Linked DNA regions of Homo sapiens. The protein of the gene in region 3 purifies or fractionates together with the protein of the main gene of each other region. This does not show direct contact. Each region holds a gene or a part of one and is shown on either strand. Other genes may lie near its edges.

What was found.
Region 1: the proteins of ARHGAP39 (region 3) and NCAM2 purify together in Homo sapiens (affinity purification with mass spectrometry; one large-scale study listed by BioGRID and IntAct). This does not show direct contact.
Region 2: the proteins of ARHGAP39 (region 3) and SEPTIN7 purify together in Homo sapiens (affinity purification with mass spectrometry, with the first as the bait; one large-scale study listed by BioGRID). This does not show direct contact.
Region 4: the proteins of ARHGAP39 (region 3) and HMGN4 purify together in Homo sapiens (affinity purification with mass spectrometry; one large-scale study listed by BioGRID and IntAct). This does not show direct contact.
Region 5: the proteins of ARHGAP39 (region 3) and GLUD1 purify together in Homo sapiens (affinity purification with mass spectrometry, with the first as the bait; one large-scale study listed by BioGRID). This does not show direct contact.
Region 6: the proteins of ARHGAP39 (region 3) and HMGA2 purify together in Homo sapiens (affinity purification with mass spectrometry, with the first as the bait; one large-scale study listed by BioGRID). This does not show direct contact.
Region 7: the proteins of ARHGAP39 (region 3) and CNKSR2 purify together in Homo sapiens (affinity purification with mass spectrometry; one large-scale study listed by BioGRID and IntAct). This does not show direct contact.

What each region holds. Positions count from the first base shown.
Region 1 is NC_000021.9:20,997,003-21,001,208, forward strand, and holds the start of NCAM2 (neural cell adhesion molecule 2 isoform 2 precursor), read left to right. Parts: upstream 1-1,406; 5' UTR 1,407-1,561; coding exon 1,562-1,616; intron 1,617-4,206. UniProt on the Homo sapiens protein: May play important roles in selective fasciculation and zone-to-zone projection of the primary olfactory axons.
Region 2 is NC_000007.14:35,884,557-35,888,056, forward strand, and holds part of SEPTIN7 (septin-7), read left to right. Parts: intron 1-1,271; coding exon 1,272-1,323; intron 1,324-3,500.
Region 3 is NC_000008.11:144,683,047-144,687,018, forward strand, and holds the start of ARHGAP39 (rho GTPase-activating protein 39), read right to left. Parts: upstream 2,801-3,972; 5' UTR 2,640-2,800; intron 1-2,639.
Region 4 is NC_000006.12:26,541,366-26,544,399, reverse strand, and holds part of HMGN4 (high mobility group nucleosome-binding domain-containing protein 4), read right to left. Parts: intron 1-3,034.
Region 5 is NC_000010.11:87,060,344-87,063,843, reverse strand, and holds part of GLUD1 (glutamate dehydrogenase 1, mitochondrial isoform a precursor), read left to right. Parts: intron 1-1,008; coding exon 1,009-1,188; intron 1,189-2,791; coding exon 2,792-2,929; intron 2,930-3,018; coding exon 3,019-3,156; intron 3,157-3,500. UniProt on the Homo sapiens protein: Mitochondrial glutamate dehydrogenase that catalyzes the conversion of L-glutamate into alpha-ketoglutarate. Plays a key role in glutamine anaplerosis by producing alpha-ketoglutarate, an important intermediate in the tricarboxylic acid cycle.
Region 6 is NC_000012.12:65,827,483-65,830,982, forward strand, and holds part of HMGA2 (high mobility group protein HMGI-C), read left to right. Parts: intron 1-518; coding exon 519-605; intron 606-3,500.
Region 7 is NC_000023.11:21,380,918-21,384,417, forward strand, and holds part of CNKSR2 (connector enhancer of kinase suppressor of ras 2), read left to right. Parts: intron 1-3,500.

The DNA.
Region 1 (4,206 bases), on a different chromosome or scaffold from region 3:
TGTCCTCACTGATAAGGAAGGAGCTAGGGTCCTTGTGGAGGCCGGGGCGAGGCAGTTGAGTTTTCTAAGGAGCCAGAGAGAAAGTGCAGATGAAAGGACCCATCGTCAGCGTTTGCAGGTCGCGGTAACCCCAGGCCAGATTGACATGGGCTCCGCACCCGGGCCGGTGATTCTGCCTCTTAACCGCTCTTGCAGGAGAGGTGACGTTAATCTCACAAACGTTTTCCTACCCTTCTAGGAGAAATAACGATAAGCCCCAATCTTAAGGAGCAGAGAGTTAGTTCCGGGCGTTTGCCACGGCTCCCTCACTTCAATTTACACTCGCACACGCGGGTACGTGGGTGTTCGGGGTAGGGCACTGATCTGGGGAAGGTCTCCCCCCCGCGACCCAACTCATCTTTGCACATTTGCAGTCCTCCCTCGGTGCACTCCTGGCGGGGATCTGGCCAGTGCAGCGCACTGGGACCGAGGGCAGAGCCCGCGGAGTGAGGCCAGGAGAGACTTCAGGCCTCTAAGGACACAGCTGAGGCTAAGGCTGAGTTGAACGCAGCCCCTCCCGCGGCTCGTCCCCTCTCCAGTGTCTCTCCCGTAAGGTGCCGCTCCCAACAGCAATGGGTCGAGATGTAGAGGAAACACTCTGTACGTTATTTTTCCGCCCACCCTTTAGCGCCTGAGGAGACAGACAGTGTAGACTTTAGGGTACAATTGCTTCCCCTCTGTCGCGGCGGGGTGGGGAGCGTGGGAAGGGGACAGCCGCGCAAGGGGCCAGCCTGCTCCAGGTTTGAGCGAGAGAGGGAGAAGGAGGTCCACGGAGAGACAAGAATCTCCCTCCTCCCACGCCCAAAAGGAATAAGCTGCGGGGCACACCGCCCGCCTCCAGATCCCCCATTCACGTTGAGCCGGGGCGCGCTCGGGGCGGTCGCCTGCAGTATCAGTATCAGCATCAGCATCAGCATCAGCATCTGCATGAGCATCAGCTCAGCTCAGCTCAGCTCAGCATCAGCTCAGCTGTCCTGAGGCAGCCGGCGGCTGTGAAGGAGCTCCAGGCTGCCCCCATCCCCACGCCCTTCTCGGCTCAGGGCGTGCATGAACCTGCGGATGGCCGGCGGGCGAGTGGCGCCTTCGCGATCGCGGCCGCCCCTCTAGGCGGAGGCACCGGGGACCGAACCCGTGACTTCGAGCTCCACTGCGGACGAATCCCGGGACCGCGCGCCTCGCGGAAGAGCGGCCGCCGTGCAGCGCGGAGGGATACGCCTCGGCCGCACCTCCCCTCGCCGCGCCCCCGCCCCCGCCGCCCTCCCCGCCCGGCTCTGCTGCCGCCGCGGCGGCCGCTGCTGCTGCTGCTTCTGCCGCCGCTGCCGCCGCCGCTGCCTGGATATAGTGCGGCAAGAGCGGAGCTTGCAGTCACTTTGCGAGGAGGAGCGCGCGGGCTGCGGGCGGCTGGGGCACCGCGGGAGCGGCGGCGGCGGCTCTAGCAGAGGCGGCCGGGGCAGCGAAAGGTTCTCTCTCCAGGGCTGGACTTAATAACTTTGAAACTGTCCACCGGTGTCACGTCCTGAACATGAGCCTCCTCCTCTCCTTCTACCTGCTGGGGTTGCTTGTCAGTAGCGGGCAAGGTAGGAGTGTGGCGCTTTATTGCATTTACTTTCCCTCCCCCTTCCACCCGGCCAAGAGAGGCAAAGAGGGAGGCGCAGGAAGAATGAAATGAAAGAACTAAAGTTACAGTTATTGCTGTTGTTGTTATTATTATTTTCGTTCTTTCTCCTAGCTGTCCCTAAAATTGTATCTGTTGTGTGGAGACCCTTAAATAAGAGAAGGGAAAATACAGAATTGGAGAGGGGAATCGGTGAGCAGGATATCCAGGGAAACCGCTTCTTCTTCTTCTTTTTTTTTCCTCTGGGATTATGGCTTTCTCTTATTTTTATTATCAGAAATTGGATGAGTGTGTTAACAGTGAAATATCTGAGGTTGCGGAAGGAAAGGGCACGATGGTGTTTTACAGAAGCAGCAAAAACTATCAGTGTTAAACTCATTTGCAAAATATCTGCTGTGTGCAAGACGTTCGATTCTTGGAGACTCTTTTTTTTTTCCACCCCTTTCCCAAAACCCTAATTCCTGACTATGAAGTGAATGATGATGGCTTATTTCTGTTGGAAACTAAGAGAGGGGCCGTGGATATTGTGTGTAAGAAAGCAAATGGATAAAACTAGGGATGTGTTGCAGTCATTCATTTTGACCCCAACCCCTTATTAATACAGAAAGGTGGAATCATTTTATAACATTACATTGTAATTACACCTGTAGAGGATTTTTGGGGTTGTGGGAGAACTGGTGGAAGCTTTTATCTCTTAAAAAAAAAAAATGAATAGCCTGGTAGAATAACCTGAGAGGGAATTTGTGGAAGCTATCACTGTTTGTCTCTAGAGAGATAGATATGAATTTATCTGGCTGTTTAGATAGTAAACACTCACATGAAATATATTTACAATAAATGGAAGCATTTTCAACTGTCCAGACAAGTTTGGACGTTTAATTAGGGACACAAAATGCTAAAACATGCATTGGTGAAAGTCTTTAAAGGAAAAATAAAATAGCACTAATTTTGAGATATGTAATGATTGCAAAGAATGTTATGTTGTTAGTGTAGTGTGAAATTGGTTTTTTAAAATAATATAATAAATTACAAGACAAGTTAAAATATCCCCAAGATATTCAGTTCTAAGCATTTTTAGCCTCTTCTGTATTGCTCGTTTGGTCCAGCAGGGGGTGGTAGAACTCCATTTTAAGCCCAGAAGTTGGTTTCTGCTCTTCCACAGAGTCCTTCTATCATTCTTCAGCAGGGCTTGACATTTTGGATGTGAAGCCTTCCTTTTTCTGCCCTTCTCCTCCCCACAGCTATAGTGTTAGTGGCGGATGAAACACGATTGGATGCAGATTTAATGTTCAGAAATCAGTATGCAAATGTTGGATATTCCTATAGTTTGTAAAGTGTCTTGATAAGATTCTGCTCATTTTCCCTTCCTAACATAGAGTATGAAATATTTCAGTCTTAGCAAAATTGCAGATATGTCCATCTGAAGCTAATACTAGCCCAATTCGTTAATTCAGTGGTTCTTAAGCAAAGATCAGCATGCACATATGTCCTACAGATATGCTTCTTTAATTTTCAGATAGCTGCTGATTGTGTTTAACTGTTCATTTATAGCATAGACAGGTATTTTTGAGCACCAAGAAACAATCCCTGAAAATTGCAGTTAAAATACAACTGCAATTAAATAAGTGTAGGTAGTGTGGGGCAGAATGGGAGCATAATAGGAAACAAGTTTATGCAGACTTAGGATTACATTGTGAGTGGTTTGGAGAAGAAAAATGTCTCAGTTGTGGAATCTGAATTTATCATTGTAGAGGCTAAGTGTGTTGGAATTTGGAGACATAGGAAATTAGAAATGTTTAGATATATAGGTTTAAATAGTACACAGAGACATAAAATTTGGATGTGTACATGTAACATAGATGTGAAATTGTGATTCAGCTAATTTGTAAGTCAGGATACGAGGTGGTTATGAAGAGGCACTCTGAGACAAGCATCTCTGAAGGGGAGCCCATATTCACTGTAATGAAACAGGGTAGAAGGAGACCATCATTGTAAAGATCTCTCTATCTAGTACAATTTCACAATGTGTGGCACTCATAGAGACACAGATATATATCAGAGAGACGTAGCTTTTGTGAAAGGGAACATATAGTACTTCTATGCCATGTGTCCTGATGAAGTCAGAGATGCTTGGATATAGATATCCTCATCCTGGAGTCCAATTCCTCTATGCTAGTGTTTTGTTCTCTAATTAAGGATGCAGCAGCAAGTATCAGACACACCACCGGGAGCTGTTTAAAAAAACAGACCTAGTGTAACTCATGATTTTGTTTATTCTCTTGTAAAGAGGGCCATGGAAAAGCCACCAGTCAGTGATCCCTGGTCTTGCCTTAGAAATACTAAAATCTCAGCTTGCTGATTTATGTGTCCAACAGTATACTTGCAGGGGATTTTATGAAGCATGATTGAAGCTATTGCTTTGGAAAGTGGTGTGCAGTTAGACTGAGGAAAGGCAACAATGATGTATTCCCTTTTTAGGAGTCAAAACGTTTTGAACTGAAGCAGTTGAATAGGAGAAAATGACATTAAGTGAGAAACTGACTAACTTAAGT
Region 2 (3,500 bases), on a different chromosome or scaffold from region 3:
CAGGGAATCTAATGAACCACCTGGAATCAAACATTTGGAGAGAAGGCCAGTCACTTTTATCGGAACGTCAGATGGTCATGGACCCTCAAGAATGATTGAAGAAATTTGTAAGCCCAGTTAAAACATCCACAGTCTTCTTTCCTCAGTGCAAAAGTTGCCCTTTTTGATATCTCATATTTAGAGTAAAAAAATTTCGTTAATAAGAGATCCTCTTTACTAGTTTTGTAAGGAGTTTTTTGTTTTCTTTTTTAACCTGCTATCTTAAATTATTAAGGGTTAAGTAAGGAGTTTTAAATACCAATAAAATCTTAGTTATAACACCAAGCCTCAGAAGTACTTCCTCTTGGCAATAGGTTTATTGTATTGGTTTAATCTGATACTTAATCTTCTGTATTATAGTAAGCTGAAACCAAAATTGAGATTTGATTGTTTTATCTGTTTGTTGCTATTATTTTTGAACTTCGTTTTTTTTTTTAAGAGACAAGGTCTTGCTATGTTGCCCAACTGGCCTCAGAATCCTGAGCTCAAAGTGATCCTCCCACATCATGCTCCTCCCACATCACGTCACTATAAGCACACACCACTGCCCCTGGTTTATTTTGAACAATTCTTTAATTTTTAGGATATTGTTTCAGGTAACTGTCCTTATTGGCAATTTTCCCATCAGTGACCTGTGTACCTTGTTCCCAGCTCTCTCTATCATGCCCAGGCAACTTTTACTTGCTGAGCTGGGGCTTTAGAACTTACCCCTTAAAAATACGCACCGGAGAAATTGATTTGCATCTCTCTTTTGTAGTTTACCCCTCTACTCCCAAGTAATATTCCTATTTGTGATACATTCTTTAAAAATAAAAGTAAAGAACCTGAAAGTTCTTGGCTCCCTTTTTCATTTTGGTTACCTTAAGATTTTTTCTAAAGTGATTCTCCCTTCACTCACACCACTGAATTTTTTAAATGTATTATAGAATAAATATATTTTTTACCAATAATAAGATTTCCCCTTTCAGAATTTCAAAGTTGTTTCTGGAGAGTTCATTTGTTAGGTTTACATATCTATTTCTGAGGATTAAACTACAATAAGGCAATAATAGAGTACACTTCTCTGTCATGCCCTCACATTGAGTGTACTATGTTAGTGTTAAATCTCAAAAAAATTGATCTGTTTTGCATTTCCTCTTCTTGTTTTTACACCCCAAGTTCCTGTGAAATATTTTTTGAAAAGACTAGGTTTAGTGGAAATATAACATATGCGGTCTGCTTTTTTCTTACAGTTGAAAATGGTGAACATTGTGATTTTACAATCCTAAGAAATATGTTGATAAGGTAAGTGCAAGCAATGATGGAAATAGCATAAGATTTTCTTTCCCTAAGTAAGAGTTGGACAGATTTACTTTTTGCCTTCTATAAATGTAGCTAATTTAAATTTATATCTTCAGTCTAGCCATGAAGTAAACACTACATATAGATGATTCTTTCTCCAAGGTTTTGAAGTCATGAGCAAAAGTTGCAAAGTAATTTGTCTAGGGATACATAGGAAAATTAGTCTCTTTATCATTATACTTTGTGTCGAGATTTAATACTGAAATAACTATGGAAAGTGAAGTAGAAGAGGCTCTTTTTTCTTAATGTGAAAACCTTGTGAAAACTATATAAGAGAAGGCTAGTTTTTGAGTCCAAAGCTAGAATTTGAATGTTAAAAGGTGCACAGCCTGGTAGCTGGTGAGTAGGGCACATTTTATGTACTGGAACATAGTGAATAAAACCAGTATTCCTACCAGGTGAGAAATCCCTAAATTGTGTCTTACACACCTGCTGAAAGAGAAGGAAAGCCTATGGGAGCAGGACATCGAGGCCATCCTGATTAGAGGACCAGGACTGTAAAGAGGATCTCTTACTAATGAATTAGAAAAGCAGCAGCAGAGAGGAAATCATGAAGAAAAAGTGTAATAGGACTAGAGATGTTAGTAGACAAGGAACAGAAAGGGCATCAAAATGATCCTCAGTATTTTCATGTTGAGACACATTCATTCCCCTCCCTACCTGACTCCGCATTTCCCACTTTTCTCTCTTGCTTCTCTACACCTTTACCACATACTCTCTTTAACCTTCAGTTTTAGATGTCTGTCTTTAGTTGATATCTATTAATTTTCATACCTCTACCCACTTTCCCAAAACATAAGAATCTCTTTTGCTGTGTAAAGAAAGGTAGTTACATAAATATGGATAATAGTTGGAAATCATGGAATAACAAGAGGTCATTCTCAAGGTGAGAAGTGAGGGGGAAAATTTAAGACAGTCAAACTGCTACCTCAAGAAATACAATAGAGGTGAGAGTGAATTTTGAAATTAAATAAATGGCATGTAATTGATCTTTATTTTCAAAGGAGCAGGTGTTCTTGGTAGGAACTACATGATAGGTTTAATTCAGCAGTTGAGGTTGCCAGGCCTCACTTAGTGGAGAAGAGCAAAAGCACGAGAAGGTCATCTTCTGGGTTTTGAGAATACAACACTTCAGGCTCTATTATGAACCATTCCCTTCCTCTTCCATTCTTAAGGTGTGACTTCAAAAGAATACATATTAATAATATAATCTGCTATGACAGTATATAAGTAGAGAATGTTTAATAAATACTAATTTACCATTGCATTCCTCTTGTTTTTAAATCTTCTATGGTACTTGCCTAGTGCTTGACACAATGGCATTCTATAACTTTTTCTTGTGTATTTTAAAAGTATACAATCAATAATTTCCTACATACCTAAAACACTGTAGAGGGGAAAGCTAGTTACTGAGCCAGAGGCTACTTTGTTGAGATGGAGTCTCACTTTCTTGCCCAGGCTGGAGTGCAGTGGCACGATCTTGGCTCGCTGCAGCCTCCACCCAGGTTCAAGTAATTCTCCTGCCTCAGCTTCCTGAGTAGCTGGGATTATAGGCATGCACCACTACACCTGACTAATTTTTGTATTTTTAGTAGAGACAGGGTTTCACCGTGTTGGCCAGGCTGGTCTCAAACTCCTGACCTCAAGTAAACCACCTGCCTCAGCCTCCCACAGTGCTGGGATTACGGGCTTGAGCCACCACACCCACCCAGCCCAGAGGCTACTTTGAATATTCGAAGGTTCACAGCCTGGCGGCTAGTGAGGGACCTCCCTAGTATAAGCATTACAGAGCAAATTGACCATGCCTGCAGGAAGATTTAATACAGCAGAGCAGCAAGACTTTTATGCCTAAAAATTCTAAAGTTATTATTAAAAAGATGTGTATTTAATTTAGCTCATGTCTTTAAGACAAAGCCATCTAGTGGATATTTAATAAATACTTGAAGGAAGGAAATAAAATACCAATACCAATATTACAGATGTCTGTAAATCCCAAATAATTGAAATCTTGCAGGTCAAAGGAATAGTGATTGCTTCTAAGAAAGAGGCAAGTTCAAAGAAGTTCTCTTGCTAATTAAGAGAACTAACTTACTCCAGGCAAACCAAGGAAGACGATGGAA
Region 3 (3,972 bases):
GGCTCACACCTGTAATCCCAGCACTTTGGGAGGCCGAGGCGGGCGGATCATGAGGTCAGGAGATCGAGACTATCCTGGCTAACACAGTAAAACCCCGTCTCTACTAAAAATACAAAAAATTAGCCAGGCGTGGTGACAGGAGCCTGTAGTCCCAGCTACTCGGGAGGCTGAGGCAGGAGAATGGCATGAACCCAGGAGGCAGAGCTTGCAGTGAGCCAAGATAGTGCCACTGCACTCTAGCCTGGGCGACAGAGCGAGACTCTGTCTCAAAAATTAAAAATAAAAATAAAATAAAATAAAATATTCTTTTTTTTTTTTTGAGACAGAGTCTCGCTCTGTCACCCAGGCTGGAGTGCAGTGGCACAATCTTGGCTCACTGCAAGCTCCGCCTCCTGGGTTCAAGCGATTCTCTGTCTCAGCCTCCCCAGTAGCTAGGACTACAGGCGTGAGCCACCACACCCAGCTAATTTTTGTATTTTTAGTAGAGACGGGGTTTCACCATGTTGGTTAGGCTGATCTTGAACTCCTGACCTCAAGCGATCTGCTCGCCCCAGCTTCCCAAAGTGCTGGCATTACAGGTGTGAGCCACCGCACCTGGCCATTTTTCTCTAAGAACGTCTTAAAACAATCTTATATAATAATTCATCTAAGTATGTGAGGCTTGTCTCTCTTTTACCTTTATAAACATGTGTTCATCCAAATATGACCTCAGCTTTCTTGTGTGAGAAACCAGCGCCACAGACTTCCAGCTTAATGTAAACTTCCAGTTTACATTACATTGGCAGTGCTGGAGAAACTGAAGACCCACTGACCCAGCACATGCACCCCGGAAGCACCAGATCTTGGCAGTAATAACCATTCCTAACTTTCTAAAACACAGTGTGCCACGAACAAAGTGTTTCACAAGTCTTAATTTACTGAGTCCTCACAACAACCCTATGAGGCCAATATTATTAGTGTTCCCATTTTACAGATGAGAAGCCAAAGGCACAGAGACCTTGCCGAAGACCACAAAGCCAGTAAACAGAAGAGTCGCGACTCAGAGGCGGGCAGCCTGGCTCCAGAACCCGCCCTCCTGTCCACTCTGCTCCCCTGCCTCTCAGGAAGACAGCTGGCTACACCAAGTGCAGGGAGCGAGGCGCCACCCCCATTCATTCACTCCAAGCATTTATGGCTACAGAGCCTGCGCCCAGGGCGGTTTATGGAATGAGTCTCCTCGATTTACAGCCACACCTCCTATCAAATCGCCTTTCCCTCCCCCGGCGCGAGAATCGCACCTTGCTCCTTGTGGATCGGGCGCCGCCGACGGAACCACCTGCTGTCTATAGAGGGCACCTAGGACGCAGCGTCCAATTCCCCTCACTGGCTTCAAAAGACAAATCTCCGTATTGTTGTACCAGGAGGCACGAGAAGCCTCACCACTGTAGGTTTTTCAGCAGAGGTCACTGGAGGTCTGGTTAAACCCGTACAGCACTGAGGGGGAGGGGGCCCGGCTGCGTTTCCGAAGCTGCGCAGCGCCCACAGCAGCTGCTGGTGGGAAGCGGCTCGGAACACACCCACAGCTGCCAAGGAGCCGGCTGCACGTTTTAAAATAAAAAACGTCCTGGGCCCCAAAATGCACAGCCCGCCTCTCTCGCCGCCCTGGGCACGGAACGCCGCCTCCACCCACAGCACTCCAGCAACTGGGAAGCAACCGGGAAGCAACCGAGGGAATTCCAGCTCGGGGGGCAACCGGGAGGGGAAGGCTCCGAGCGCCGGAGCCCCAGCCCGCGCCTGCCGCAGAGGCGAGGCCGCAGAGCCCACCCGCAGGCGGCCATGACCCCACCTGGAGACGCCCATGTCCGCTCCCTGCGCCCCGGGGACAAAGCCCGAGGCTGCACCGCAGCGCACCGCAGCCCTGCACCCGGGCCGCCCTTCAGGACGCGGGCACCAGACCCGACCGGCGGGCATCCACCTTGTCCCCACTCCGACGGCGCCCGGGAATGCGGCCGGTGCCCCGAGCTCAGGCTGGGCACACGTGCACCCACACCCACCACGGGCGGGGTCCCCTCACACCCCCCTCGGGCAGGGGCACACTCACACCCATCTAGGGCCGGGCACACTCACACCTCCCTCGGGCAGGAGCACACTCACACCCCCCTGGGGCCGGACACACCCACACTCCCCTCGGGCCGGGCACACTCATACCCACCGTGGACAGGGGCACACTCACACTCACTCTGGACAGGGGCACACCCACACCCACATTGGGGCCGGGCACACTCACACCCACCTAGGGCAGGGACACAACTCACTCTGGACAGGGTACAGTCACACCCACTTCGGGCCGGGCACACGCGAACTCACCCACCCTCACACTCCCAGCCCGGCCCGTCGGCGCGCACCCGGGCCCCGCGCGGCCTCGGCCCCTCGAGCCTCCGCGCCCCCCGCCCGGCCGGGCCCCGCACACCCACGCCCCCTCCCTCCACGGCCCAGTCACAGCCCCTCCCGCCGCTGCAGTCGCCGCGGGCCTGGATTCCTTGCGCTGCCGGGCCTGGAGCCTCCGCCGAGGCTGGGCCAGGACCACGGGGACCGCAGCGCCGGCCCCTCCGCCATCTTCTTGGCCCGCGCCGCCCACCGCCCGTTGCCCGCGCTCTCACCGGCCGGCTGCGCGCGGGCCGCGCCGCCACAGTCCCTCATCCCGGCCCGCGCGACGCGCGTGAGCCAGCCGCCGCTCCCCGGCCTCTCTGCTGCTCCGCCGCTGCTGCCGCGGCAGCCCGTGCTGTCGGCGTCCTCCGCCGCCGCCGCCGGCCCAGTGCGCGGCGGCCGCGCGTCCTCCCGTCACCAAGCGCAACCCCCCGCCTCCGGCTCCGCCCCCGCGGCGGTCACTACCCGCCGCCAGGGGGCACTGCCTCGCGAGGCCGCATCACGCATGCGCTGGCGCGCGGCATGCCGGGAGCCGGAGTCCCGCGGAGGGCGCGCGCGGCATGCTGGGAGCCGCCTGGCCCCGCCCCGTCGCCGCGCCAGAGGCCTCCCGCGCGGACCTACCCTGTGAGTTAGCGGTGTCTTCCCGTCTCTTTCGGTGCAGAGCAGTTACCATCTGACACGTCTCGGTGTGGTTTGGTGTAATTTTGCCCTCTCAAACCACGTTGGGCTTCCCGAGTCTGAGATTTCACTTTTCTTCGACTCTAGAAATACAGCCATTCTTCTCAAAACGTGGGCTGCCCTGTTCCTCAGTCCTTCTTGTGGCGGGCTCGTGTCTCTTCACCTCCTGTTATTCTCACCTTTTTAGTCCTGTCACTTTTACTCGGTAATTCACTCAGCTGCAGCTCGACTAGTGCTCTATTCGGCGTTTTCTAATCTGCGTTCAGCCTGGTTTTCTAGATTCTCTTAGTGCCAGGTGCGTTTCTGGAAATTGAATCTGACTGGCATTTCTGGAGAAACGGAGGCTAAACAGCCTGAAGCTTCGATAGTAGAAGACAGGGGCGCACACCCTTCAGTCCTGGACATTCCCTGGGTCCTCAACTGTGAGAAGCCGCAAAGGGCTGAAAGGCCCCCGTCAAAAGTCATCCGTGGAGCTCCACCTCCTGCCCTGCAGCTCAGTCGCCTTGCAGGGACTCTCCCGCCTCAGGAGATCTCCCGTCGGGCTGTCTCGCCGCCCGCGCTTCCCTGTTGGGCCGTCGTCACACTTCACTCTTCACTCTTATACACAGGGCTCTGCTTTTTCGCCTCCCGCTCCCTCTCCACTGTATTCACTTAGAAAACCCAACTGGGCGAGCCCAACCCTTCTCCTCCATGACTGCTGAAGAAAATCACACATCCAGGCTGACTGCCTTCACCTTAAACTTGTGACAACACACTGGCGGCGAGCACTTCCCACCCCCGTGACCACACACTGGCGGCGACCATTTCCCACCCCTGTGACCACGCACTGGCGGCGAGCACTTCCCACCCCCGTGACCACACACTGGCGGCGACCATTTCCCACCCCCG
Region 4 (3,034 bases), on a different chromosome or scaffold from region 3:
AGGTTCAAAAACGAGGATGAATCTCAAGAATATAATGCCGAAGAAAAATAGCAAGTTGCAGAAGAATATGTACACTATAGATCCATTTACACATGTAAAACTATGACATGTTGAGGCCACAAACATATAGTAAAACTTAAAAAAAAAGGGATAAATAAAAATTGGACAGTGGTCATCTCTTGGGAGTTGGGAAAGGGATGTAGTTGGAGAAGGCATGGAGGTTAGTCCAGAGATGGGGGAGGTTGCATTCTCTTCTTTAAACTGTAGGGGAAGCACATGGCTGGAGTATTACCTATGTCTTACACAGAAAAATTGTATGTGTCTGCTCAAGAATTAATAAAAGTACTAAAAAATGTGGGTAGCCCAGAGCACAGATTGAGAGCCACACAGGTAGGAAATGGAAAATAGTTTGAGTTTGAGTAATTAGGACTTAGGCCTAGGGCTGGCATTCATGGGCACTGTGTGACTTTTTTAAAGCTTTTGTCTATCATACCTTCTGCCCCACCCTTGAAAACATTTACTGGGAAATTCTGTAACCTTGTGAGTGGCCACCATTCTACAATGTTATTATTATTTTTTTAATCTTGTCTCCAAATTGCTCCAGTTTTTTTTTTTTTTTTTTTTTTTTTTTGAGATAGAGTCTCAGAGTCTCGTTCTGTCACCCAGGCTGGAGTGCAGTGGTGCGATCTCGGCTCACTGCAACCTCTGCCTCCCGGGTTCAAGCAATTCTCCTGCCTCAGCCTCCTGGGTAGCTGGGATTACAGGCGCACGCCACCATACCCAGCCAATTTTTGTATTTTTACTAGAGACAGGGTTTCACCGTGTTGGCCAGGCTAGTCTCGAACTCCTGACATCAGGTGATCCACCTGAGAATTGCTTGAACCTGGGAGGCGGAGGTTGCAGTGAGCCGAGATTGTGCCACTGCACTCCAGCCTGGGGGACAGAGTGAGACTCTGCTTCAAAAAAAAAAAAAAAAAAGGTAATGGTGCCACTGAGACATACAGTTCTACTGATCTAACTACACCTGACCTGCTCTCTTCTGAAGAAATCCTTGCCTAGACATTACATGAATTTATTGCTAATTTTTGTCTTTTTCCCTTTATTTCAAATGCAACATTAAGGAATCATTTTAACAATTTTTAGGAAACAAAAGGAGTTACTCTTACAATGAAGGAACCAGTGAAAATCACTTGGTCTAATGGTAGGGTGACTTGATTTATACCTGTTGCCCTAGTATAATTATTCATAATGTTCCCTTTTACTTTGAAAGGTGACCTAACTTGGGCAATGAATAATAAGGTTACCCCAAATATTCTGCATATATTTTTAGAGGCCTTTATGTTATCAGAGAATGAGAGTGTTTAACCAAAAAGTGAGATTTTGGCCTAGCACACATTTCCCTAAGAATAGATACTCCATACCATTCTCCTTCCATCTCACTCCAAAATTGTTTCTCAGCCCATTTCCTGGTGTGAGAATGCTCACACAGTCTCTTTTCCTGGGTTCAGTCTTCTTCGAGTTAGATCCATTGAAGTCCATCCGAAGTAGGGGGGCCATGATCTCCACATGTCAAAGGCCAAAATACAGCAGGTGACAAAATAAAATCAGGAAAAATAGGCCACTGCCTGGATGCTGTATCTGAGTATATAAATACGGATTTAATTCTTGAAACTCACCTTTAGGAAGCTGATTAGGAGACCAGGTCACTGACTCTCTAGAGACCTTACAAATGTGGGAGACAGATACACACATAATGAAAAGGGACCAGAGAGATGGGTAAAAGCTCTTACCATTTCCATAAAGGACAAGGAGGTTGGAAAAGGAAGGAGCTCTCACCACACAGTGGTTTTAACTCAGAAGAAATTATTTGAGGTGGCGCAGAAGAGATTTTTAGGTAAATGAAACTCTTTTGTATGCTACTGTAATGGCATATATTATAAAATGGTAGATGTTATGCACTTGACAAAACCCACAGAACTTCATACAGTGAGTGAACCCTGATGTAAACTATATATTTTAGTTAATAATAAGCTATCAATATTAGTTCATCATTTGTAACAAATGTACCACACCAGTGTAAGTTGTTAATAACTTAGGAGAAACTGAGGTGGGGGAAAGGAAGTATGTGGGAACTCTGTATCTTCTGCTCAATTTTCTGTAAACCAAAAATTGCTCTGAAAAAAGGAAGTCTATTAATGTAAAAAAAAAATACGCATTTTAAGAGTTCAAAAAAATAATGTTAATGATAAAATATAAAAGTCATTACAAATACTCCTTCATGCATGTGGAAGAAAAGAAAAATTATTAACTGGCAGATAAATCTTACTAGTAATTGTACAACTTTTGGAAACATAGAGAAATGACTTTCAATGGTATCATCAGGGCAAGAAATTATCAAGACAGATACTGAAGTTATTTTCCCAAGACATGGCAACAATTTTAAAAGTTTTAGAAATATAACAGTTCCCCTTTGTTAAAATAACTCTTCCAATAACATTATATTACAAACAACAGAGCAAGTTAGTGAAAGTTTTGAATCACTCGTCTTCATTGCACAGAACTGGACTGAAATTCTCATGAAAGCTCTCAATTTAACTCCTCATTTAACCAGATTGCTGTAGGGGAGAAGAAACATCTGCTTCATCCTTCTTCCAATCCTTTTGTTAGCATGAAGACTTGCATTTTTATCATTAGAAGAAGATCATGATGTTTAAATTAACTGGCAAAAATAGCTTTAAAAAAAAAACTAATAGTGAAATAAAAAGCAAAATAGGGTATTATGGGTGGGCCCTAATTCAATATTACTGGTGTACTTATAGGAAGAGGAGATTAGGATACAGACAACATAGAGGAACACATCTAAGGATGTAGTGGGAGGTGGCCATCTGCAAGCCAAGGAGAGGCCTCAGAAGAAACCAAACCTGCCGACATCTTGATCTTGGACTTCTATCCTCCAGAAGTCAAAGAAAATTAATTTTTGTTGTTTAAGTCACTCAGCCTGTGGTACCTTGTTTCGGCAGCCCTAGCGGACTAA
Region 5 (3,500 bases), on a different chromosome or scaffold from region 3:
AACCCCCATCTCCACTTTGCAGAGCTAACCACTGCTACCAAAGATACTCTGCTCACACAGAAGCACAGGACTCTTACCCACACATACCTTTTTAAAAATACTTCATTAAATACTTTCGTTACTCTACTCTTAGATGAACTTGAATGTCATGTTATATTAAGTATCAAGTTATATTAAAAACTTCCTTTTTCAAAAGTGGCAGAATACAACATTGAGTCTTCCCATCCAAGACAATTGTAAAGCCTCTTCCTGTCTCAGGCTCTGTTTTGGTGACATGCTCAAGTCTTATAGTAGATTTTAAGACACTCATGAATGGGATGTGTATGTACCTTGATTTAGTAGTGCTTAAATACTTGTTGAAGGAATGATAGCTTTAGGCTGAGCTAGCTCTACTTTTGTGATGTTATTTGTACTTACTTGATGTTCAATCCCTACACTCTTGTTTTTTCTGTCAGAAAATATGGTCTACTTTGCCGGGCGTGGTGGCTCACGCTTGTAATTCTAGCACTTTGGGAGGCCAAGGCAGGGAGATCACTTGAGGTCAGGAGTTTGAGACCAGCCTGACCAACATGGAGAAACCCCATCTCTACTAAAAACACAAAATTAGCCGGGCGTGGTGGCACGTGCCTGGAATACCAGCTACTCAGGAGGCTGAGGCAGGAGAATCGCTTGAACCTGGGAGGTGGAGGTTGCGATGAGCCAAGATCTCACCATTGCACTCCAGCCTGAGCAACAAGAGTGAAACTCCGTCTCAAAAACAAACAAACAAACAAACAAAAAAAAAAACAGAAAATATAGTATATTTTATTGTATTTTCTAGGAACAGAAAGCTGAAAAAGTGAGTCTTGTCTCTATTGGTAAAAGTATACCTTAAATACATTCATACACACACTCCTAATTAGCATATTTTTGATTAAATGAGAATGTGCTTTGACTTTAATTCATTATGTTCCTTCAACAGAGAAATTGGACTTGACATTTCATTCTTTCAATTACCCCCTCTTACAGGATATTAATGCACACGCCTGTGTTACTGGTAAACCCATCAGCCAAGGGGGAATCCATGGACGCATCTCTGCTACTGGCCGTGGTGTCTTCCATGGGATTGAAAATTTCATCAATGAAGCTTCTTACATGAGCATTTTAGGAATGACACCAGGGTTTGGAGATAAAACATTTGTTGTTCAGGTAAAAACAAAAACAAAAAAAGTTTCCTTAATAACTGATAGACATTAAGTAAAGTTTTCAATGTTTTTAGAATTGTAATTTTAAAATTAAGTTATCTCAAATCTCTTAAATTTTAGAGTGGTGGTTTTCAGAGTAATAGATATTTTGTTTTTTGAACCTTGGTATGATTCATGTAACTAGAACTGATTTAAGTATCTCTCAAGTACATGTGAAACTGTTACCAACTTCAACCAAACTATCACCAAATTCAACCAAAATATTGGTTAGTATTCAAACTTGAAATTATAGCTAGAAGGGCAAGTCTCTTAACATAATTTTCTAAGTTTTGTAAGTATATAGAAAGGTTTACACACTGACCCAAATTTGTTTCATGTGTTAACATGTATTTTACTTAGGAGAATCTTAATTAAGTTGAAATTACTTGAAAATAGAAGTGGTGGCTGGACACAGTGGCTCATGCCTGTATTCCCAGCACTTTGGGAGGCCAAGACGGGTGGATCACTTGAGGCCAGGAGTTCGAGACCAGCCTGGCCAACATGGTGAAACCCTGTCTCTACTAAAAGTAGAAAAATTAAGCCGGGCGTGGTGGCTCACGCCTGTAATCCCATCACTTTGGGAGGCCAAGGTGGGCAGATCACGAGGTCAAGAGATCAAGACCATCCTGGCCAACATGGTGAAACCCGGTCTCCGCTAAAAATAGGAAAATTAGCAGGGTGTGGTGGTACACGCCTGTAGTCCCAGCTACTCTGGAGGCTGACGCAGGAGAATCACTTGAACCCGGGAGGTGGAGCTTGCAGTGAGCCGAGATTGCGCCACTGCACTCCAGCCTGGGTGACAGAGCCAGACTCTGTCTCAAAAAAAAAGAAAGAAAAATTAGCTGGGCATGATGGCGGCACCTGTAATCCCAACTACTCAGGAGACTAAGGCAGGAGACTCACTTGAACCCGGGAGGCAGAGGCTGCAGTGAGCCAAGATTGTGCCATTGCACTCCAGCCTGTGTGAGAGAATGAGACTCGGTCTCAAAAAAAAAAAAAAATTGTATTTCTCCAAATTAGTGACATCCCTTTTCACAACATAGGACATCTGATCATCAAGGACTGAGGACCTGGTGGTGTACTTAACACCACTGCCATTTATTGATTGATTGAGATGGAGTCTCACCCTATTGCCCAGGCTGGAGTGCAGTCTCGGCTCACTGCAACCTCCACCTCCCAGGTTCAAGTGATTCTCCTACCTCATTCTCCCAAGTAGCTGGGATTACAGGCACGGACCCCATGCCTAATTTTTGTATTTTTAGTAGAGACGGGGTTTCACCATGTTGGCCATGGCTGATCTCGAACTCCTGACCTCAAGTGATCCACCTGCCTCAGCCTCCCAAAGTGCTGGAATTACAAGCGTGAGCCACCATGCCCGCTCATCACATTCTTAAACAGAGAATTTTATTGTTGAAGAGAAACCAGTTAGTACATTGTTTCTTTTGGCAAAAGAATTTTGAGAATTGCTTCTAAATAAACAGAGTATGGATTTACATTGGTCAAAATATGACTCTTGCTGTCTATACCAGGACTTTAATTTTTGTGTTATGGGTAATTGTTCTTCACAGGGATTTGGTAATGTGGGCCTACACTCTATGAGATATTTACATCGTTTTGGTGCTAAATGTATTGCTGTTGGTGAGTCTGATGGGAGTATATGGAATCCAGATGGTATTGACCCAAAGGAACTGGAAGACTTCAAATTGGTATTAATACATTTTTATAGCATAGACACTAAATATAAATATTTAAAACTCTGGTGCAGCTATTAATTGTGATTTTCAATCAATGGCAGCAACATGGGTCCATTCTGGGCTTCCCCAAGGCAAAGCCCTATGAAGGAAGCATCTTGGAGGCCGACTGTGACATACTGATCCCAGCTGCCAGTGAGAAGCAGTTGACCAAATCCAACGCACCCAGAGTCAAAGCCAAGGTGACAACATTATAGAAACCAGAACCAACATTATCAATGTGAATGACGTTAGGGGGGTCATAGAAGAGTCTGATTGAGTTTTCTCTTTCTTTTTAGCAGCTTTATTGGCACATACTGCACATACCATACAGTTCCCCCATTTAAGGTACATAATTTAATGGCTTTTAGCTACCGGCACAGAGTTGTGCAACCATTACCAAAACAAACGCATCTGCCTGACACTCCTGTAAAAAAAAAAAACAAGCAAACAAAAAAAAAACCTAGATAAATAGAAAAGTGAAAGGTAGTTTTATACACTTGGCAGAGAAAAATAACCTCTATTTAACTTTAACTGAAACTGTGCT
Region 6 (3,500 bases), on a different chromosome or scaffold from region 3:
CTCAAAATGTGTCAGTTGAATCATAATCCACCTAGAAGGCAGGTATACAAAGATGATTAAAGGCCACCTTTTCAATATGGAAGATTGTTGAAATATCTGTGATGGTAGCTTCGTATTTCTGTTGTTTGAAATGCTAGTATAATGCAGAGTGGTGTTCGTTTAAAATGCCTATTATTCCTATGAGTTGCCAAATGCATAGCCCTGTAAACTTTACACCTTAAAAGTATATGACTTTCTTTCTAGAACATGCCTCTTCAGTCTTTGTTACCATTTTAGGTTTGAAGTAGAATCTAGTTTTCATATACAAAATAGAGTTTCCTCTTTGAACCCTTGCATTAAAAGTATAGTTATTTCCCCTTTCTGTAAACTCTGTACCATCATCATCCATTTATGCTTGAACTGAACGTGTTCCAACAGCTCTTTTGAGCAGCACATGCAGAAAATATAGCTAAAGAGTCAGGGTCAATTTCTTTCAGACATTCTTGCCACAACAGCATTTTTTTTTCCCTCACAATTAGGAACCAACCGGTGAGCCCTCTCCTAAGAGACCCAGGGGAAGACCCAAAGGCAGCAAAAACAAGAGTCCCTCTAAAGCAGCTCAAAAGGTGAGATTTCTCAAGTCAAGCTCTCCTAACTTCATCAATGACTGACTACAGGAGCCTGCCTGTAACTTTCCCATTCTAACTCCGCAGCCAGGAATTTGTCCCAACTGGGTAACACAAGACTCATTTCTTACATTTAACATTAGTTAGATGCGAGTTAACCTTTTTTGTAAGCAGATGCTCAGCATAAAAAGTTTATGAAGATACTTAACAGTGTTGTTTTTAAACAAACAGCCACCAAATAATTTGAACCTTAAAACGGGTAGAAGTGAGGAAGGAAGGGGTTGCGGGGGGGGCGGGATGAAAATGACACAATTAATATTTGCACCAGTTGTAAATAGTTAAAAACAAATCAAAACTATAGATTTTGCCTGGTGGTAAAGTTTTTGCAATTTCCTCTGAAAAATGATAAAGATTGATTTACTTTGTGCTTATTACATGGCTACTGCAAACCAAATCCCCCTATTAAAGTACTTTGCCAAATAGACGATAATTAGAAGTAAATCTAGTTGTGGGATAGTGGAAAAATTCCATGAATTTTGCAGCTTTAATTGTGATAATAAAGTATACTGTTTGTTTTACAATAAACCTGCAGTATAGTATATCATAATCTCAAAATGCCTTTTCATCAAGTGACATAGAAATGTCTGAATTGGACAATGAGACTTTTTAAAACAAGTATTTGGCTCATTTAATATCTCTTTTTGGGCAGAATGGAACCCAGTTAAGTGTAATATTCAGTGTTTATCTTAATAAGTTTAAACTTGCAGTTTAAGATAACTTCAGGTTGGCTGTGTTTAAGCTAGCAAAGAGGAACTATGTCAGGGTTAATGCATGTATAGAGAAGTACCAGTCACTTTTTTGACTTTATAAATAAATTGGAAAAAAAAGTTTCTGCGTTGTATTTGTAGGTTTGTGTAGTAATTGAGAACAAAGTTTCAAAAATCAGAACTAAATTTGGATATACCTTTTCACCGGTTTTGGGTACTCCATGTACAGTATTTGTTAGAAAGGACTATATGCTCATCGTTTGGGGATTAATGTTTTGTGTGATTTTCTTTGTGACTGTGGGTACTAACTGTAATGTATGTAAACTGCCATAGCAACTAATGGTACATATAAAGTTATTTAGGAAGTTACTCTGAGTTCTTGTCTGTTTTAACAGTTTTGAACAGAGTTGAGGAGCATATTTTTAATATATTTAAATTTAATTGCTTCTTAGAGTTTAGATTTAATTGTTTCTTATTTAATCAATAAACTTTAAAATAGCTCTAAGTAACCTTGTTATTTAAAAATGGCAATATATAATCTGGTATTTTTAATATGAATACTTTACATTTGTTTCATTTTATCTCATTTATAAATTAACTAAAATGGACTGATTTTACCAAGGAGTTTTTCTATGTTGTGTAAGTGTGGAGTTTACCTAATTTACTTTTATTCTAAGGAGATGCACAAATGAATATCTTGTTAGATAGCTGACACGCATTTAAGCTGTGGTATAATTCCTCTGAAAAACACATCATGATAATATCTCCTAGGAAGAAATCTTTAAATTTCACCATAAATAAGTAATTTGAAATTTAATACTAAAAAGGAAAATGAATTGTCTCCCATATTTTACTATATTTCATGTTTTTTGGATGAATAGATAGAAACGCTCCCATCGCCTCCGCTTCATTTTAAAAAGCTTACCACTGACTAACAAAATTTGTATTGAGAAAAGGGAAGCTGAAGCTAGTGCCTAGTTTACCACCTAAAGCAAAATTTTTAAAGTTGATCTATTCCTAAGTAAGGGTTGATTTATTTTTAGTGACTCTAGTGACAGGCATTTGTAAATGACCCCCCTACGCCGCTCATCTTTCTGAAAATTCTTCATGTGTATGCATACATTATTCCAATTTCCAAAACAGAAGTAGGCTTTCTTTTTTCTAAAGATTCCTTCTCCAGAATCTTTCATTCTTTCAGACACAATTATTTCCTACAATGGTGTTATAAAAATCCCTCTTGTAATAAAAATGAATAAATACATTTGCCCATAACATGACTTATTTTTCTTCAGTTTTATAAATTACGCTTCATCTGGAGAAGAGAATACCTTGCAAAATAATGAATGACATTGATGAATCGTTCATGGCATGTGTAAACTTAAGGTATTTTCACTTTCAAATCAGAATTTGTTGAGTATGTTACTATTCTATATAAATATGATTTTCAAACATTTGTTTATTAAGCATATATTGTGTTCTAACAAAACATATATGTTCGTCAGGATTTTGCAATGCAAATCTTTTTAGAAAAAGTTATATTGTTCATAACATGTAAGATAAACATACCCTGTGAGACTGACCAGAATAGATATGAGAAGTCTTCTATGAGTAACAAAGTGAGTGTTTTCCTGTAAACTGAGACCCATCACAATGCAAAATACATTGCAAAGACTGGTAAGTATATGAGAAGAAAGAAGCCTAAAATTAGAGGAGCTGCAATGCACACTGAAATCCTGATGGTTATATACTTAAAATTTCTTGCTGCTTGGAGTTTCTTGACTTACAAAGTTTATATTTGGATTCAGTAATTGGCCTTGGGACATTTGAAAACAAAGCTGTTGATTTGAAAATTAACAGTGTGAAACTGGACAATGCATGCAGAATGTTGCAAGACCAAGTGAATGACTACTAAATTAGCCATCACTTCAATTTCAAACCATATTCAGTAGAAAATTGATTTATATAATATGTAAAACAAAGACATTTATAAGAACACAATTTCCTATGCTTGGAACTTTTGGAAGAGAAGATAATTATTCTTCAATCTACTTAATATTCCATTAAAACTAATTACTATGCATGACCATTGTGTAATGATTCTAGTCATTCCTCAGAACTCCAATCTGAG
Region 7 (3,500 bases), on a different chromosome or scaffold from region 3:
GAAAAAAATTGAGTCTAAAAGTTTTAATTGTTCATGGCTTTTTATTGTTTAGTGTCTGATTAAAAACAGCAAGTATAGTCTTCAATGTGGAATCATTGTGTTGAATTACATTCGGTGAGGGAATTCACAGTTTTCATGTATAGCATAGGCCTGTATTCCTCAAAATGGTATATTTTTGTGGTTGTGGAAGCCAAATGATCAAAAGAAGCCAAAGAGTTGTGTTTTTTTTGTTTTTTGCTAAGCTTTTTAAAACATTATATTAAAACAAACATGGATATTATATTCATGATGTAGAAAGCAAAATTGGCATTATTTCAAAGATGAGACCAGAGACTTAACAGGAATTTTAGGCTTGCAACAGGCTGTTTAAAGCTGTATTCTCCAGACCTCCCAGGGCTGAGTACACTCTTTTGAGCAATTACAGATGCATCAGTGGAAAAGTTGGAGAAGTGGTGGTTGAGTTTAAAAAAGGTAAAATTAATGTACTCTGTTTCCCTTTTTTTCCTATTACCACAAGGCACAAAATATGACCATTTTCAGTCGAGGTCATGATAATTGTAGCATCTTAATTTTGTTTATTTGTTTGATCCATACACCTGCAGTCAGGATGAATTCCTTGAAAATAAATCTCATCCGATCTCATTCTCTCACTTCTTACCCTCATCAGTTTAAAACAATTTAATGACTTCTCATTGTTTTTAGGATAAAGGTCAAAGTCCTTAACATGGCCTATAAGACTCTTGAAGGTTTGGCCATTGCCTATGAGGTAAGCGTCATGCCCAGCACCAAGTATGCAGGCTGCCTCACCGTCCTTCCTGTTTGCCTACCACTGGACATTTGCACTTAATATGTTCCCTATCCCTCTTCACCTAGTTAAGTCTTACTCACCCTTCACGTCTTAGGCTTTTTCTCATCCACCTTAGGAAAGCCTTTCCAGATTTGTTAAATCACATCAAATCCTCAGTTATATGCTGTCCTAGTACCATGTATATCTCCTGTGTCCCATTCACCAGTTTTATTTTTATATTAATTTGGATGGTTATTTGATATCCAACTCCCCCACTAGATGAGTGCAGGGACCCCATCTATTTCTTGTACCAGTGTGTAAAAAAGTATCTGGTATGAAATAGGCACTTAGAAAATATTTGTTGAGAGAAGGAATAAATTAATTTATTCACAGATTACTGGTCTGTCAGCAAATCTGCTTTCCTAAATGACAATGCACGTAAAGTCCCTTATAATGCTCTAATGGATACTTCAGTGCCAACTTGTATATTGTGTGCCAGAATACAGTAGAAGTAGGGTTGCTTTATCCATTTCTCATAGTTGTAGTGCTCTAGCCAATTCAAAGATACGAATCATGGTTTAAACTTATTTTGTTACAAAATATTAATAATTTCAGGAAATTAATAACACTTTGGTGTTTATGCCATATTATAAATAGTATAAATATTACTTACTAATATCACTTAGTAAGACAACATGATAAGCAAATACTTATTAAAACATTAAAACACACTCCTTCTCCTAAGCATTTATTTCCCTTCATTCAAATTTTCTAATTGTTTCTTCATTTGGGTATTTTTTAAAGAACTCTATATATCTTAGAATGCATGATGGAGTGAAATTGATCAGATGTCTTAATTTTGTCCTCATAAAAATAAAAACAAAAAGCTCATATAAAAAATTAAAATGCATTATTCTGTTGTGAGGATATCCTTTATTTGTTAATTGGGACGATAAAATGGAAAAACAACCCTTGGGCTTAATGAAACCATTATCTTATTTATTATATTTAGTGTTCAATTTGCATTTTTATTAATAGGAATACAATTAAGGTATTTAAAGGTGCATCTTAAATCAGCATTTTCTTGTGTAATTTTTCACCGTTCCCTCTGATTTTGAAAAAAAGAAAACTTTAAAAACTAGATGTAAGTTTATCATTACTAATTTTTGAAGGGCACTTGTTAAGAACATACGTACAGAATTATTGCAAAGCATAGTTTGCTAAATACAGGTGCCTCAAGTGGATTTTCTATGAATTACATGCTGCTAGATAATCACTAGTAGGCAACTTACCAAAATTTTTCTAATAAAGCCTGCCTCCTCCCAATTTAGAATCATTAAAATACAAATCAGAGTAAGTGAAATTGTAAAGATCTTAATAGGCATGCCAGTTTGTTAACTCTTTATAAAACACCATCAGGCTTAAATGCTCTAGCTAGTACTGCAAAACAATGGATTGCAATTGTGCCCTGATTTGACTTGCAAACAACTATTCTACAAGATGGAATTTTTAAATTTTAAAGATGTATTTAATTTATTGTTTGATTTTAATTTAAATCACAATCATTAATTCTAATGGAAGTTTTCATTATCTTACTCTTGCAATTTCAGGAAAAAAGAGTTTGTTGCTATTTGCATAAATGCATTGAACTTTAAATTTTACTAAAGTGCAGTAATAACTGTTTTAGCTCTCTTTGTTCATCTGTTGACTATTTTACCACAACATAAAATTGTTTGAAAAATCAAAATTTATTTAGTAAACCAAAACTTGCACTGACACCAATATATGATAGTTTGTCATGATAAAAATATTGTTACATAACTAATATCAAGTATAGCATACATGACTCTTATGTGTTTACTTGGCATTAATGTTCTTAGAAATTAAGTAGGTTGGATGGTCTTTAGATACAGTGGTAGATAAGAAGAAACCTCATTAAATTAGTTGCGTTTTTAAATGTTGCTCAATATCTTTTTTTTTTTTTGGTGTTTGTTTGAACTTTTTATTTTGTTCCAGATACATCTGCTATTTTTAAAACAGGCTTGCAACATGTTTTCTTAAGTAATAGCTAGAACAAATCGATGGAAGCCTGGCTTAGATCCTAGATTTTCCTTTTTTCAACTTATTTACCAAAGATTGTAAAAGAATCTATTTTCTAGTAACTTGTTAGTTATACTTAGCAATGTAATTTATTAGTAAAAACCTTTAACAATGCTGGCATTAAATAATACAGCTGAATGATTAATGTTAACACTGGCTGAATTTTTGTTTTAATTTTGGTGTGTTTTTTATGTGTATATAGGAACTTATTTTGTATATTTTTTCAGAAAATTGATATTTTAATTTTGTGAAAATCATTTATATTTTGGTTTTCAAAACAGGCCATTGGGATATTAAATACATATAACAGAGAAAGTGTAGAGATTTTGCTCATGATGCTCAAAACAGACATATAGTAGTCCAGTGGCTAGTTTTCCTCCTGGCCTGCTGGAACTTACGTAGAAACCAAGTTTGATGTGGTATAGAGCTAGCATGATATGGCAGGGCTAGGTGCTCTTTCCCCATTTCCTATTATATTGGTGTCAGGATGAGCTTTGTGGCAGTCTCTGTTGGCACTAATGTTACATTAAATCAAAGGAACAAGGCTTCCTTATCCAGAAGCCTGCTCTGTTGCCTTCTAGCTGTCAGACCAGAGACTTTCAGTTTGATGTTG